2 linked regions of the Homo sapiens genome follow. The protein of the gene in region 1 interacts with the protein of each later gene in a pairwise test. Each region holds a gene or a part of one and is shown on either strand. Other genes may lie near its edges. The genes, in order: NMRAL1 and ASS1.

The links.
Region 2: the proteins of NMRAL1 (region 1) and ASS1 interact in binary tests that used the Homo sapiens proteins (3 or more experiments, as listed by UniProt).

What each region holds. Positions count from the first base shown.
Region 1 is NC_000016.10:4,467,884-4,471,691, reverse strand, and holds part of NMRAL1 (nmrA-like family domain-containing protein 1), read left to right. Parts: intron 1-276; exon of another isoform or gene 277-378; intron 379-1,993; exon of another isoform or gene 1,994-2,098; coding exon of another isoform or gene 2,099-2,188; intron 2,189-2,226; coding exon 2,227-2,465; intron 2,466-3,808. UniProt on the Homo sapiens protein: Redox sensor protein. Undergoes restructuring and subcellular redistribution in response to changes in intracellular NADPH/NADP(+) levels.
Region 2 is NC_000009.12:130,458,461-130,462,268, forward strand, and holds part of ASS1 (argininosuccinate synthase), read left to right. Parts: coding exon 1-129; intron 130-3,808. UniProt on the Homo sapiens protein: One of the enzymes of the urea cycle, the metabolic pathway transforming neurotoxic amonia produced by protein catabolism into inocuous urea in the liver of ureotelic animals.

The sequences.
Region 1 (3,808 bases):
TGTTTATAGATTATTTTTAATTATGAGGTAAAATATACATATAATAAAGAATTTTTTTTTTTTTTTTTTTTTGGAGACAGGGCCTTACTCTGTTACCCAGGCTGGCGTGCAGTGGTGTGATCACGGCTCACTGCAGCCTCAACCTCCTGGGTTCAGGCTTTCCTCCAGCCTCAGCCTCCCTGGTAGCTGGGACTACAGGCACATGCCACCACGCCCAGCTAATTTTTGGTTTTTTTTTGTAGAGATATGGTTTCACCATGTTGCCCAGGCTGGTCTCAAACTCCTGAGCTCAAGAGATCTGCGTGCCTCAGCCTCCCAAAGTGTCTGGATTACAGGCATGAGCCCCTGGGCCCAGCTGCAACGCGCAAAATCTTAAGGGTACATCTGACCGATGCGCATGCCTGTGTGACTCAAGCTCCATCGAGATCTGAATAAGTTTTTGTATTCCTTTCTGTTAACTATTTTTCTTTGTCTCGTTTTTGAGCAGATCTGAATATGGTTGTGTATCTGAATATGGCTTTATATTCTACTTCAGGAAGAATTCAAATCCCATCAAGATCTGAATATGGTTTTTTCTTTTGTTTTGAGACAGAGTCTCACTGTGTCACCCAGGCTGGAGTGCAGTGGCCCAATCTCGGCTCACTGCAACCTCTGCCACCCTGGTTCAAGCGATTCTCCTGCCTCAGCCTCCCAAGTAGCTGGGATTACAGGCTCCACCATGCCCAGCTAATTTTTTTTTTTTTTTGAGACGGAGTCTTGCTCTGTCGTCCAGGCTGGAGTGCAGTGGCGCGATCTCGGCTCACTGCAAGCTCCACCTCCTGGGTTCATGCCATTCTCCTGCCTCAGTCTCCCGAGTAGCTGGGACTACAGGCGCCCGCCACCACGCCCGGCTAAGTTTTTGTATTTTTAGTAGAGACAGGGTTTCACCGTGTTAGCCAGGATGGTCTCGATCTCCTGACCTCATGATCCGCCCGCCTCGGCCTCCCAAAGTGCTGGGATTACAGTTGTGAGCTACTGCACCCGGCCTCATTTTTTTATTTTTAGTAGAGACGGGGTTTCACCATCTTGGCTAGGCTGGTCTTGAGCTCCTGACCTCGTGATCCACCTGTCTCAGCCTCCCAAAGTGCTAGGATTACAGCCACTGCACCCAGCCTGAATATGGTTTTGTATTCTACTTTTTTTACTTTATTACATCACAAATATTTTTACCTTTATTTTTTTGAGACCAAGTTTCGCTCTTGTTGCCCAGGCTGGAGTGCAATGGCGCGATCTCGGCTCACCGCAACCTCTGCCTCCTGGGTTCAAGCGATTCTCCTGCCTCAGCCTCTCGAGTAGCTGGGATTACAGGCATGTGCCACCACGCCTAGCTAATTTTGTATTTTTAGTAGAGACAGTGGTTTCTCCATGTTGGTCGGGCTGTTCTCAAACTCCCAACTTCAGGTGATCTACCCCCCTCGGCCTCTCAAAGTGCTAGGATTACAGGTGTGAGCCACTGCACCAGGCCCTTTTTTTTTTTTTTTTTTTTTTTTTGAGAGGGAATCTCACTTTGTCACCCAGGCTGGAGTGCAGTGGCGTGATCTGGGCTCACTGCAACCTCCGCCTCCTGTGTTCAAGCGATTCTCCTGCCTTAGCCTCCTGAGTAGCTGTGACTACAGGCGGGTGCCACCACGCCCGGCTAAGTTTGTATTTTTAGCAGAGACAGGGTTTCACTGTGTTAGCCAGGATGGTCTCGGTCTCCTTACCTGGTGATCCACTCGGCCTGGCCTCCCAAAGTGCTGTGATTACAGGCGTGAGCCACCATGCCTGGCCTTTTTTTTTTTTTTTTAATACAGATTCTCGCTGTGTCACCCAGGCTGTGGTGCAGTGGCGCAATCTCAGCTCACTGCAACCTCCGCCTCCTGGGTTCCAGCAATTCTCGTGCCTCAGCCTCCTGAGTAGCTGGGAGTACAGGCATGTGCCTTCACACCCAGCTAATTTTTGTATTTTTTGATAGAGGCGGGGTTTCACCAAGCCAAGATCGTGCCACTGCACTTCAGCCTGGGTGATAGAGTGAGACTCCATCTCAAAAAAATAAAATAAAGAAAATAAAAATACCTGAATGAGAATCGTCGTTGAGAAGGTTTCCTGGATGCTCCTTGCTGTGGTGGAGCACTCCCTTCGGGGTTTCGCCCTTCAGTGGGACTTTCAGGTAGGTCTGACCTGAGAGGTCTTTTTGATTCTTTGTAGGTGCCCAGGGTGGCTCCGTGGCCCGCACACTCCTGGAAGATGGGACATTCAAGGTTCGAGTGGTGACCCGAAACCCTAGGAAGAAGGCAGCAAAGGAGCTGAGGCTGCAAGGTGCAGAAGTAGTGCAGGGAGACCAAGATGACCAGGTCATCATGGAGCTGGCCCTGAATGGGGCTTACGCCACCTTCATCGTGACCAATTACTGGGAGAGCTGCAGCCAGGAGCAGGAGGTCAAGCAGGTGAGGGCAGGCAGGAGCTGCAGGGAGGCCCGGCCAGGCTAGGAGCAGAGCGCCTGGGAGGAGCTCCGACTCTGCAGGGAGGTTGGAGCACTGCAGGCCTTTCCCTCTTCTTCATGCCTCTGCCTGCTCTAGGCTGTGAAGCAGGTGGACGCTGTTGCTTTCTCATCCAATTACTTTTTTTTTGTTTGTTTGAGGCCGTCTCAGTCTCCGTGAGCAACCACGCCTGGCCTGTTCGTTTGTTTTTTTTTTTTTTAATCAAAAATGTTAGAAGTTTTTTTTAAAAAGTAATTTCCACTTTTATTTTAGATTCAGGGGTACATGCACAGGTTTGTTACATTGGTATATTGAGTGATGCTGAGGTCTGGGGTGTGACTGGACCTGTCACCCAGGTAGTGGGCACAGTACCCAGTAGGTAGGTTTTCAACCCTTGCCTCCCTCCCTCCCGTGGTTCCCAGTGTCTGTTGTTGCCTTCATGTCCACGTGTACCCATCCAAACTTGTTATTAGCCTTGACCCTTTCTTCAATTATGGTCTTACCTAGAAGCCCATTATATAGAGCAGACAAAGACAACTTCTCTGATTAACGCAGATCTTTTTTTTTTTTTTTTTTTTGAGACTGAGTCTTGCTCTGTCGCCCAGGCCGGAGTGCAGTGGGGTGATCTCGGCTCACTGCAACCTCTGCCTCCCAGATTCAAGCAATTCTTCTGCCTCAGCCTCCCGAGTAGCTGGGATTATAGGTGTGTACCAGCACACCCAACTAATTTTTGTATTTTTAGTAGAGGCGGGGTTTCACCATGTTGGCCAGGCTGGTCTTGAACTCCTGACCTCAGGTGATCCGCCCACCTCGGCCTCCCAAAGTGCTGGGATTACAGGCGTAAGCCACATGCCCGGCCCTGAGCTGATCTTATTTCTTTCTTTATTTTTTGAGGCCGAGTTTCGCTTTTGTTGCCCAGGCTGGCATGCAATGGCGCAATCTTGGCTCACCGCAACCTCCGCCTCCTGGGTTCAAGTTATTCTCCTGCCCCAGCCTCCCGAATAGCTGAGATTACATGCATGCGTCACCATGCCCTGGTAATTTTTTTGTATTTTTAGTACAGACGGGGTTTCTCCATGTTGGTCAAGCTGGTCTCTAACTCCCGGCCTCAGGCGATCCGCCTGCCTCGGCCTCCCAAAGTGCTGGGACTGCGGGCATGAGCCACTGCGCCCAGCCCAGCAGATCTTATTTCTAATCCTGATGATTCCCTGTGGGCTTCCTGGTACTGTCACGAAAAAGGACCACAATCCACGTGGCTTAAAACCATAGAAATCAGCTGGGCACAGTGGCTCATGCTTGTAATCCCCACA
Region 2 (3,808 bases), on another chromosome or scaffold:
TCCAGCGCACTGTATGAGGACCGCTACCTCCTGGGCACCTCTCTTGCCAGGCCCTGCATCGCCCGCAAACAAGTGGAAATCGCCCAGCGGGAGGGGGCCAAGTATGTGTCCCACGGCGCCACAGGAAAGGTGAGGCACCTGGGAAGGGCCGGGCAGAGGGAGATGGAGGCGGAGGGGTGTGGGAAGGAGATGAGCACCCCTCGAGCGGTTTCCTGGTGTGCCTCCGGGGCAGACTTGGTGCAAGGCAGCTACATGGCTTTGTTTAGACCCCAATGAGAGGGGTAACAGCTCGCCCCTGCGCTCTGTGCACTGTGGCACCTGAACGCCCATTCTGAGTCCTCACCTCCACCTTCTGCTGTGGGAGCGATGTCACCCCATTTGGCAGACTTGCTGCTGAGGCCTGGGGACATTGTCCAAGGTCGCATTGGCCAAGGTCACTGCGTGAGTCCCCCAGGGGACACGCAGGAAAGTGTTGAAAACCCTGAGTTGGCAGAGTAGGGTTCAAAGGCAGCTCTGCTGCTGGCTTGCCGTGTGTCCTCAGCCAGGGCCCTTCTCCCCTTCCTGAACCTCAGTTTCTTCATTTGCAAGATGGGGCTCATGCCATGTCTTAGTTTCCCAGGGCGAGGGTAACAAAATGTCTCAAACTGGTGGCTTAGAACACAGAACTGTTCTGCCTCATGGTTCTGGAGGCCTGAGGTCCATAGTGAGGGCATGGGCAGGGCCACGCAGCCTCTGAAGGTGCCAGGAAGCCTCCGGCTCAGGCCTCTCTCCAGCTTCCAGTGGCCTCTGGTGTCCCTTAGCGTGTGGCTGCGTCACTCCTGTCCTTCCGTCCTCCATCTTCCCAAGCTGTCTTCTTCCTGTATCTCTGCATTGTCTTCCCTCTGCTTGTCTGTTTACCTTCCCCTTGCTACAGGAACCCGTCTTGGATTAGGGCCCTTCAATGACCTCATCTTAACTTGGTTACTTTTTGTGTGTGTGTGTGGGGGAGAGGGACAAAGTCTCACTCTGACGCCCAGGCTGGAGTGCAGTGGCTCGATCTTGGCTCACTGCAACCTCTGCCTCCCAGATTGAAGCAATTCTCCTGCCTCAGCCTCCTGAGTAGCTGGGATTACAGGTGTGTACCCCACCACACCCGGCTAATTTTTTGTATTTTTAGTAGAGACGGGGTTTCGCCATGTTGGGCAGGCTGGTCTTGAACTCCTGACCTCAAATGATCCACCAGCCTTGGCCTCCCAAAGCACTGGGATTACAGGCGTGGGCCACCATGCCCAGCCTTAACTTGGTTATTTCTGTTAAGACCACATGAGGCCACATTCGGAGGGACTGGGGTTAGGACTTGAACCCATTATTTTGTGGAAACACAAATCAACCCATCCCGTACCCCTTCCCTCCGGGCCGTGTGTCCCAGTGCAGACTGCGGGGTCCCCGTGGGGTGCAAGACAGGAAGCCCCCTGCCTGCTGCTCTTCGGAAGGCAGTCCTTGAGAAACCAGATTCCTGACAATGTTGGCAACTGTCAGCCGATGTTTTTATAAAGACCCAAGTCATGAGCTCTCAGTCAGCGGACAGCATGCCAAGAGCCTGGTACAGGAATTGACTGTTTACCAACCCCACAGTCAGAAGGCTCGGAAACTCCCCAGTGACGGGGAGCTCACTACCTCGCCTGCCCGGGCTGGTCAGGGTGCTGATGGTGGGAAGTCCTGGCTCACTGTGGGAGGTCCTGGCTCACTGTGGTGCAGGGACACACACAGCTAAGATGATGATGGAGGAGACGCGGTTGATTTGAGGGTGGCCTGGGAGACAGCCACCCACCAGGATGGCACCTGTCATGTCTTTGAAAGTCCAAGTGTTCATTTCTTCACCGGAGCACTGGTTCAGCAAGCTTGCACTGGGTATCTGCTGGGAGTTGGGTGCTTGCTGGCATTGGCACAGTGCTAACTTCTTGGGCTCATTGCGTACCTTCAGAGAGCCCATTTCCTGGCAAGAGAAGAGAAAATGGATGTGTGATGAGGAATGGGAGTGGGGCCAGGGGTCTGTGCCAGGGAACTGCGGGAGCAGCAGGCAGGGGCTGAGGATGAGTCTAGAGGAGTGAATAATGGCATGGAAGAGTGTGAGAGGCAGAGGGAACAGCCTGTGGAAAGGCTTAGAGCCAAGAGGCCCTGAAGGACAGTCTGTCTGGGGCTGTGGAGCAGGAGCTATTGCTGTGGGGGAGGCAATAGGGCCAGGACTGGGCTGAGGCCATGCTGGGAGGTTTGGCTTCATCCTGAGGGCAACTGATTAGTGGGTGGAAGGAGGTCTCAGGTTGGATGGAGGTGGCCAGTGACTACCCCAGCGAGATGCTGGGGAAGAGACAGGGGAGAGCTTCTCACAGACTGCGGCCTTGGTTTTTACTGTCACTCCAGCTGTGGATGATGGGATGGTAGGAAACCAGGCAAGGAGGTTTGGGCGGGCCTGAGCTGTTGGGCAGGACCGTGTGTATGCTGCCATCTGTGCAAAGGTGGTGGCAGAGGAGGAGAACCCAGAGGATCAGGACTGGGCGACACAGCGAGACTCTGTCCCAAACAAAAAAAAAAGCTCCCGACCCATCTGCCTTAATGGAAAGAGCTGGATCGTGAGCTTCCTATCCCAGAAGGCATACAAGCCGAGGGCAGGGGATCAGAATTCTGGGAGGGGTCCTGCCCTCAGGTCTTTCCAACGGTACCATTAAGGTTCAGTAGGGCGGCATTCAGGTCTGGTGGAGTGCATGGGTGGGTGGGTGAGTATGGGTGGGTCGGCTCTGGCTCAGGCAGTTCCCGGGTCCATGCGGAGACCCCCACCCCGGACCAGCCCACATTTAGCCTGCAACAGCCTCCCGCAGCCGTGTGCGCCCCTCCTCCATGTGGCCACCAGAGGGCGCCAGAGGCTTGGGTTTGAGGCCTTGGGGGCCGACAAAGGCGGGAGGAGGTGGCGGCACCACCGGGGTCCTCTGTTCCCCATCCTGGACCTGCAGGGCGTGGTTCTGAGGAGAACGCCCCCCAAGCTAGTGCTATGGCCGCTCGGGACTTGGGGGCGTCCCTGCATTCACACTCAGAAGACCCAACAGGGACGGACTCCGGGGATGCCGGGGAGTAGGTGCTACCTGGCACAGCCACCTCTTTCCTGGGGTTGACAGGCAAGGCGTACTTCTGCGCCTCAGTGTCCCTTTATGACAGTACCCAGGAAACCCCCAACAGCCTCTGGAGACAATTTCCGAGAACTGGGGGTATGAGTGGAGAACCAGGAAGGCTGGGAGCGAGGGGAATCCAAGGCCTTGGAGGTGCTGGTCCAGCCTTCAGGCATTTACCCCCTGAGTAACCACCCAGCACCACCATCCCATGAGTATCCACCCAGCACTGCCCCGGGCGCCATCACGGGGGACGGGCCAGGTGGAGGCTTTCGGGTCTTTGGGCTCAGGGAAGGTGACAGTGAAATGTTGGGGGGACAACGGATTGGCCTGGGATGTGAGGGGGAAGGGCATCCTGTTTGCTGGAACCGCCTGAGCCCAGCCCTGAAGGCAGAGGCGGAGGCAGCCTCCCTTCCCAGCACCCCGTCCAGACAGCACCTGGTGCAGAAATTGAGCCGCACTCTCCCCTCCCATGCCCTGCTGCCAGCCCCACCCCTGCCCACCCAGAGAGCTGCACCGAAGCTGGGGTGGCCCTTGCGGGGCTCCTCTCTCCCCCTAGTTTTGGAAGAGGGGCCTGGAAATATGATTCTGAGACTCTAGCCGGGGAGCGAGAGTTTTGTAAATGGCACCATCTGTATGGGTGCCCCAGGGCAGATGGGAGACCCCAG